2 linked regions of the Homo sapiens genome follow. The protein of the gene in region 1 interacts with the protein of each later gene in a pairwise test. Each region holds a gene or a part of one and is shown in the gene's direction. Other genes may lie near its edges. The genes, in order: EXOC3 and GMCL1.

Region 1 (3,821 bases):
AGCAGCAGTCAGTGATCTGAGTACAGATCTCCGGTGTGGAGGACAGGGTTCTTTTTGCCCAGCCAGGCTGCAGGCTGTGTGCAGGCAGCTTTAGGAACACATCAGCACATGCACAGCTGCCTGCGGGGTGGGAGGTGGGGCCTCGGTAGCCACTGCCCAGCTGAGAGCTGCAAATGACCACAGTTAACCACAGTTTACCATTTATGCCTTTAATAGACTCCAGAGTTCCAAAGATAGTTACCTCAGACACATCCTGCCATTGCAGTTGTTGTTAGCTAGGGAGATGTGGCTTCCTGCTCTGCCGTGTTCCCAGAACACCGCATGCAGGCAGCCTTTTATGTGGTGGTGGTTGTTTATGTTGTGTCTTGTGCCTTCTCCCTAGTGCCTGAGATTGTGAGGGAGACCCAGGACCTAATTGAACAAGGGGCACTCCTGCAAGCCCACCGGAAGCTGATGGACCTGGAGTGCTCCCGGGACGGGCTGATGTACGAGCAGTACCGCATGGACAGTGGGAACACGCGTGACATGACCCTCATCCATGGCTACTTTGGCAGCACGCAGGGGCTCTCTGATGAGCTGGCTAAGCAGCTGTGGATGGTGCTGCAGAGGTCACTGGTCACTGTCCGCCGTGACCCCACCTTGCTGGTCTCAGTTGTCAGGATCATTGAAAGGGAAGAGAAAATTGACAGGCGCATACTTGACCGGAAAAAGCAAACTGGCTTTGTTCCTCCTGGGAGGCCCAAGAATTGGAAGGAGAAAATGTTCACCATCTTGGAGAGGACTGTGACCACCAGAATTGAGGGCACACAGGCAGATACCAGAGAGTCTGACAAGATGTGGCTTGTCCGCCACCTGGAAATTATAAGGAAGTACGTCCTGGATGACCTCATTGTCGCCAAAAACCTGATGGTTCAGTGCTTTCCTCCCCACTATGAGATCTTTAAGAACCTCCTGAACATGTACCACCAAGCCCTGAGCACGCGGATGCAGGACCTCGCATCGGAAGACCTGGAAGCCAATGAGATCGTGAGCCTCTTGACGTGGGTCTTAAACACCTACACAAGGTAAAGCTAACCTGGCGCCTGTGTTGGCTCTTAGGTAGAAGCCGTGTGTGAGAGGGGCCTGCAGCTGCTTGCTGGAGAGCCGACCTCAGGGTGTTGCTCTGGGCAGGTGCTCCGAGCCCACAGCCTTGGTTTCCAGCCCAGGGGTGTCTTCTTTCTGCTCTGCCTGCTGGTGCCCAGCCTCTGGTGTTTGAACACTGTTGTGCTTGGGAGGGATCTCTGCTCTTGGCCTCCAGCCCCCGTTGAGCTTGACAGGGTGCAGCTCTGGGCTGGGCCTGTTTCCTGTGCTCACCGTGTGCTGACTTGCTTCCTTGCAGTGACACCCTGAGGCAGGTGTGTTGTTACCCCATTTTACAGGTGAGGACACATGGTCCCAGGCGGGGCTGGGACTGGCACATGGCCACCCCACTGGGGAGGAGACCACTACATCACCTCCCTGGCTTCCAGCATCCCGGGTTTGGTTTCTCTTCACCAATATCCTATAGCAGTGAGTCTTTCAAAAATAAACAGTTACAAGTCTAGATAGTTCGAGGAAACTCCATCATCCTTTTTGTATCCTAGTACGAGGTTTTGTCACTTCACTTAAGGGACCATGAACCACTCTGTGCGTGGATTAATTTGAAGTAGTGTTGAAAAATGGTGCAGTGGTGGGGGTATTCTGAAATTCTTTAAGATTAGGTAGCCGAAATGAAAATTTATTTCAATTTTCCATGGTTTCATGGTTAGAAAATAATATTAAGTAATGTATTGGAATTTCTTCTTCTTCTTTTTTTTCTTCCGCCCATCTTGTCACTGCAGTGGAGAAATTGAATAAACCTCATTTTTTTTTTTTTTTTTTTTAGCAGTAAGGCATATTTTTTTGTGTGCTTTGTTTACTGGTATCTGCTTATAGAGAATTTGCATTTCAATACAGAAGGACAGAAGAGAAAGGAAGCGCCCCCTGCAGAGAATGGTCACCGTGACGCTCTGTGCAATGGTGGCTCTCTGTGCAACCGTGGCGCTCTGTGCAACTGTGGCTCTCTGTGCACAGCCCTGGACTCACCTCCCCTGGCTGCCGCTCATCCTCATGGCCGCCCATTCTGTAGCCTTGACAGTGCAGGTCTCCCCCTCCGTGCCTGGTGTGTGTCAGCAGCCCATGAGGCAGGAGGCAGGGGACACGGCCAGTGAGTGGGAAGCTGGATTCCAGTCCCATCCCTGGGCCCTCCCGGGCCATGGCCACTAGGCTGGGCTGTGCATGTGTGCACCTTGCACAGTTTGTGTCTTGATTTTGTCTTTCCACGTTGTGAGTGTTTTTCTGTCCTTGGGGAGTCTCGTGAGTTCCATCACCCCGGCCTTTCTCAGGGGAGGTTGAAGTGCTCCACTAGAAACATTCTCACACGGAATTGAGGTTCTTGGGAAAAATAATCCAGATTAAATAAAAGTCTTTTAAAATGTGCAGAATTTTAGGAAGTACTTTTTCACTTAGGAAGCTCTCGGATTTCTTATAGTGGACTGGCTCTTAATCATTTTATTCAGTGTTACTCTGAGAACGTATTTACGGAACATAGCATGAGGCGTGTGAGTTGAAAGAATTTTCTGAGTGGTCAAACCTTAGACTTAAAAAAACTTTTTAATTTTAATTTTTGTGGGTACATAGTAGGTGTATCCCGGCTTCACGCCATTCTCCTGCCTCAGCCTCCCGAGTACCTGGGACTACAGGCGCGTGCCACCATGCCCCGCTAATTTTTTTGTATTTTTAATAGAGATGGGGTTTCACTGTGTTAGCCAGGATGGTCTCAATCTCCTGACCTCATGATCCGCCCGTCTCGGCTTCCCAAAGTGCTGGGATTACAGGCGTGAGCCACCATGCCCGGCTGATAATAACTTTCTAATGAAAACTTTTCCTGAAATGTAGCATGTGTTTCCTGTCTTCTGGACAGTAGACCTCACGTAGTTTTGCCTGTTCTTGCGGATGCGTTTTTATCAGTAATGTCCTGTATTGTACGTTCCAGTCATCACCGTCTGCAGAGCATATTGATGTGGACTGCAGTGGCTTGTTTCCAAAGGACAGCACAGCTGCCCCTCCATACTCAATGGGGAGGGATTCCAGGACCCCCCTTGGCTATCAAAATCCTCCGTAGCCCAAGTCCCCTTTATAAAAGGGTATAGTGTTTGCACGTAACCTGCGTACATTCTCCTTCATGCTCTAAATCATTTCTAGATTACTTATAAGACTAAATACAATGTGAATGCTATGGAAATAGTTGTTCTATATTTTTTGAAATTTTTATTATTTTTTATTGTTGTTTTTCCCAAATACTTTCAGTTTGTGTTTGGTTGAGTCAGTGGACGTGGCGCCCGTGGCTGTGGGGGCGGCTGTGCTTGTCGTTTTGACTGAGTACGTTTGTTTATTCAGCGCCTCCTGTTTGCCAGGCCCTGCCTCGGCTCTGCAGGTGCAGTGAATAGAACACACGTCTTCCCCACAGGAAAGGCTCTTCCACATTTGAGCCCCAGCACCTCATGAAGCTGGCGCAGCAGGGTGAAGCTGGGGTTGGAGGGACTCAAGTGGTCTCGGAGCCAGTGGGTGATGCCACAGAGACCCCAAAGCCCTCGGCCCCTGCCCTGCACTTTCCCCGGTTGGAGGGACTCACGCAGTCTGGGAGCCAGTGGGGTGATGCCACAGAGACCCCAAAGCCCTCGGCCCCTGCCCTGCACTTTCCCCTGAGCTGTGGGCCGGCTGTGACCAGGAAGTCTCCAGGGTGGTGGACATTCATGTGTCAA
Region 2 (3,821 bases), on another chromosome or scaffold:
AGTACTTGATAATCGTTGACTTTTTTTTTTGTTTAAGTCTGGCTACTTTTCTAGTATGTTCAGTGGTTCTTGGAAAGAATCCAGCATGAATATTATTGAACTGGAGATTCCTGACCAGAACATTGATGTAGAAGGTAACTACCACAATAATTACTATTATGCAACAATCGTAAAAACATAATCTTATTCTTCTGGTAGAAGATAAATAATTCCTTCCAGCCTTGTAGTCTAGAAAACTCCTTTTATCACCTCAAGGTGATAATTTGATGTTGATTTACACCATAGTTTATCAGTTCTGTCCATCTTATCACTAATCTGTTTTGTCATTTGGGCCTTATCAGTTTGTTTACTTATCTTTGTAAATATGCCCACCTGGGATATGGAAGATGTAGGATGGAGGAAGGAAAAGTATGACCATTTTTTTTTTTAATTACATAGAAAATCTGATAAATAATACTGATTATTCCCTATGTATGAAGATGTTTTCTGGGAACAATAAATAAAAATATTGTTTTAGAGCTAAAAGAATCCTTAGTTGAGGAAGCTGAGGCTCAGAGGAGTTAAGGGACTTATTTTGGATCTCAGAGCAGTTTAGTGAGCCTGTGTCAGACTACAGCTCTCCTCATTCCCATTCCAGTGCTCTTGCTGCTCCCCTCATTGGTGGTCCACATGGAAGTACCTGGTGCGATACAAAGGCAAAGAAATACTTTAGTTAAGAATATTTACAGCCTGTAATCCCAGCACGTTGGGAGGCCAAGGTGGGTGGATCACAAGGTCAGGAGATCGAGACCATCCTGGCTAACATGGTGAACCCCATCTCTACTTAAAAAAATACAAAAAATTAGCCAAGCGTGGTGGCAGGCACCTGTAGTCCCAGCTATTTGGGAGGCTGAGGCAGGAGAATGGCGTGAACCCGGGAGGCAGAGCTTGCAGTGAGCCGAGATCGCGCCACTGCACTCCAGCCTGGGCGACAGAGCGAGACTCCATCTCAAAAAAAAAAAAAAGAATATTTACAAAGCAAACCATGTGGGACATTCATAACAGTGGCAGTGGAGGAAGGATGAACAGGCATAGATCACTGTGGGGGCTGGGAATGAGTGTGGCATGGACAGGACTCAGGAGCTGTACCACATTTCTCAGTGGTGGAGTGCTGAAAGCAGCCGGGTTAAGATTATCTTTGAGTCTGCGTATTTGTACTTAACGATTGGTCTACTGAGGAGTATCTTATACAACTTCTTGCAAGGCATCTTGGTTGTGACCACTGATGTCAAGATTACATGTTAGAAGAATGCAGCTAGATTTGGTAGAATAAACAGAAATTTATAACCTTGTTATTAAATTAACAGTGTCAACCAGTAACCATTACTAGCGTTTTAATTAGAGATACTTCTGTTATCCTTTTATGTGCATGCCACATTTAGACGGATGTCTTTGTGTGTGAAGACAGTCGTTGTTGTTATTTGTATAACACTTGTAATAGATATAAATATTATTTCATCCTACATGTGTACCTTGCTTTCAGCACTGCAGGTTGCATTTGGTTCACTGTATCGAGATGATGTCTTGATAAAGCCCAGTCGAGTTGTTGCCATTTTGGCAGCAGCTTGTTTGCTGCAGTTGGTAAGTATGCACGTTATTCGAAGAAAGGTTCAGAATAATAATCTTTGTCTCAAAGTGTGTACTCCAAAAACAAAAATAAAGCTTAGCTTTTTTGGAGTTTTTAAATAAAAATGAAATGTATAAATATGACATTTATTATAAATCATTTAAAATGCCTAACCAAAAGCAATTTATTACAACCGAGGGAGTCATGATGTCTGCATAAAATGAATGCAGGCCATTTCTGTGTAGATATCTTAGTATGACTATAATGTGGAAAAAACGTACTTGTCTAAGGTCATTTACAGATTTCATTAATGACTTGACTATTAAGCAGATGGCTTATGATTACCAATTAATTTCATTCATGGGTTCAAATAAACATGCATGCCTACTATTTAAATTTCTCTTAATTTTGAAAGAATTGTGTATAAATCACATATATGTATTTTAATCTACTGGCAGAATGACAGATTTGTTCATTGAAGAGAAGTGTGTTGAGCACTGTGTCAAACTAGACACAGAAAGCCAAAGGTAACTTAAGACGTAATCCTTACTTTCAAAAAGTTCACAACATAGTATGTATGTGTGGAGAGGGGAGGGAGGGTTGATATACAAACCCAAAGGTAAAGTAAGAGCTGTTCAATATTATAGGTATGATAATAAACATCCTGTAGCATTTAGTGAATGGATAAAGAAGGGAGTGGTCAGTTCATCCTGGTGGTGTCACATACGAAAGTTACATTTTCACACAGAGTCTTGAAAGTGTGTTTGTATTGCAAAGTAAGAAGAGGGGAAGGAAGAGCATTTCAGACAGAGAGAACAGAGTAAACTAAGATCTAGTGATGTGAAATAATGGAGGATTCAAGACTCTAACAGAAACATGGCTCCCACATAAACATAAGAAGGATTGCAGAAGAGGGGGGCAGAAGCCAGATCATGAAAATACATCTATACATTGCTAAGAAGTTTAGCATACACAGTACCTTTGGAATATTTTAATCAGGGGAAAGACGAAGTTATGTTTTAGAAAGAATACTTCAGTAACAATGTGACAGATGAATTGAAGGAAAGATGAGTACAGCATTAGAGACAAAAACTTGTTGCATTCGTCCAAGGGAGGAAAGTAGGGTAGTAGCAATAAGCTTGGAGGGGAAAAAGTGGATACCAGAGAGATTCAGGGATAATCCACTGGACTTGGTGATAGACTAAATGTTAAGAGGAAAGGGGAGGAGTCTAGAATGATTTCCAGGTAAGTTTAAAATCCTAATGGAGTCAATGTTTTATTTTAATCTTAAAAAATTGTTTACTTTTATGTGGTATTTTTGTACTGATTTATTTGAAGTATTAATAGCTTGCTAAATATCCTTGGTTGAGATCATTTGATTTTCAAAATGTTTTGATCCTTTCAATACTTACTTCCAATAAGTATACTTTATTATCTAACTCTGGTCCTTTTGGTTTTGTTCTAAATTCACCTTCTGCTTACTTTTATGATTTACTAACTCTTTAACTTAATATACCTGCATGATGAATGTATTTCAGAAATTTGAATGAAAAGTAGTATTCTTCCCATATATTAAAGTTAGTTCACTTAAAACCTATATAAACATTTTAGGTTAAAACTTTAATGTTAATCATTTGAAATAATAATATACTTGTTTTAAGTCTATCTCTTAGATATTGTAGTTATTTTAAACTTGATCACTTTCTGCTAATGCATACTGTTAGTTTAGTCCCATCACATGGTTAACTGACTATGTAGACTTCTTAATTTAAAAAGAAATGGCAAAACAGACAAAATGCTGCTAAAGAAATTTGCAAAGGTCTCAGACAGGGGAAGAATAGAAAAGAAAAAGAATAGCAGTATTCATTCTCTACCTTACTACTCCCCCCCACCTTCCATTTTCAAATTCCAAGTATTTAGTTGAATACTTGCTGAACTTTTTTCAGTATTTTTATTGGACTTGTTAAAAAAAAAAAAAAAAACTTAGGTTTGCTGCACTTAATGAGTTTTCTTTCTTTTCTTTCTTCTTTTTTTTTTTCTTTTACTTTTTAATATGTAAAAGCTGTCAGAGCTAATTTTTCCCACGTGAAATGGGCCTTTCCAGTGCTTATTTATATTTACAGGACGGTTTAATACAGCAGTGTGGTGAGACAATGAAGGAAACAGTTAATGTGAAAACTGTATGTGGCTATTACACATCAGCAGGGACCTATGG

What was found.
Region 2: the proteins of EXOC3 (region 1) and GMCL1 interact in binary tests that used the Homo sapiens proteins (3 or more experiments, as listed by UniProt).

Annotation. Positions count from the first base shown.
Region 1 is NC_000005.10:452,988-456,808, forward strand, and holds part of EXOC3 (exocyst complex component 3), read left to right. Parts: intron 1-382; coding exon 383-1,064; intron 1,065-3,821. UniProt on the Homo sapiens protein: Component of the exocyst complex involved in the docking of exocytic vesicles with fusion sites on the plasma membrane.
Region 2 is NC_000002.12:69,839,420-69,843,240, forward strand, and holds part of GMCL1 (germ cell-less protein-like 1), read left to right. Parts: intron 1-37; coding exon 38-134; intron 135-1,522; coding exon 1,523-1,620; intron 1,621-2,063; exon of another isoform or gene 2,064-2,133; intron 2,134-3,668; exon of another isoform or gene 3,669-3,696; coding exon of another isoform or gene 3,697-3,729; coding exon 3,730-3,821. UniProt on the Homo sapiens protein: Possible function in spermatogenesis. Enhances the degradation of MDM2 and increases the amount of p53 probably by modulating the nucleocytoplasmic transport.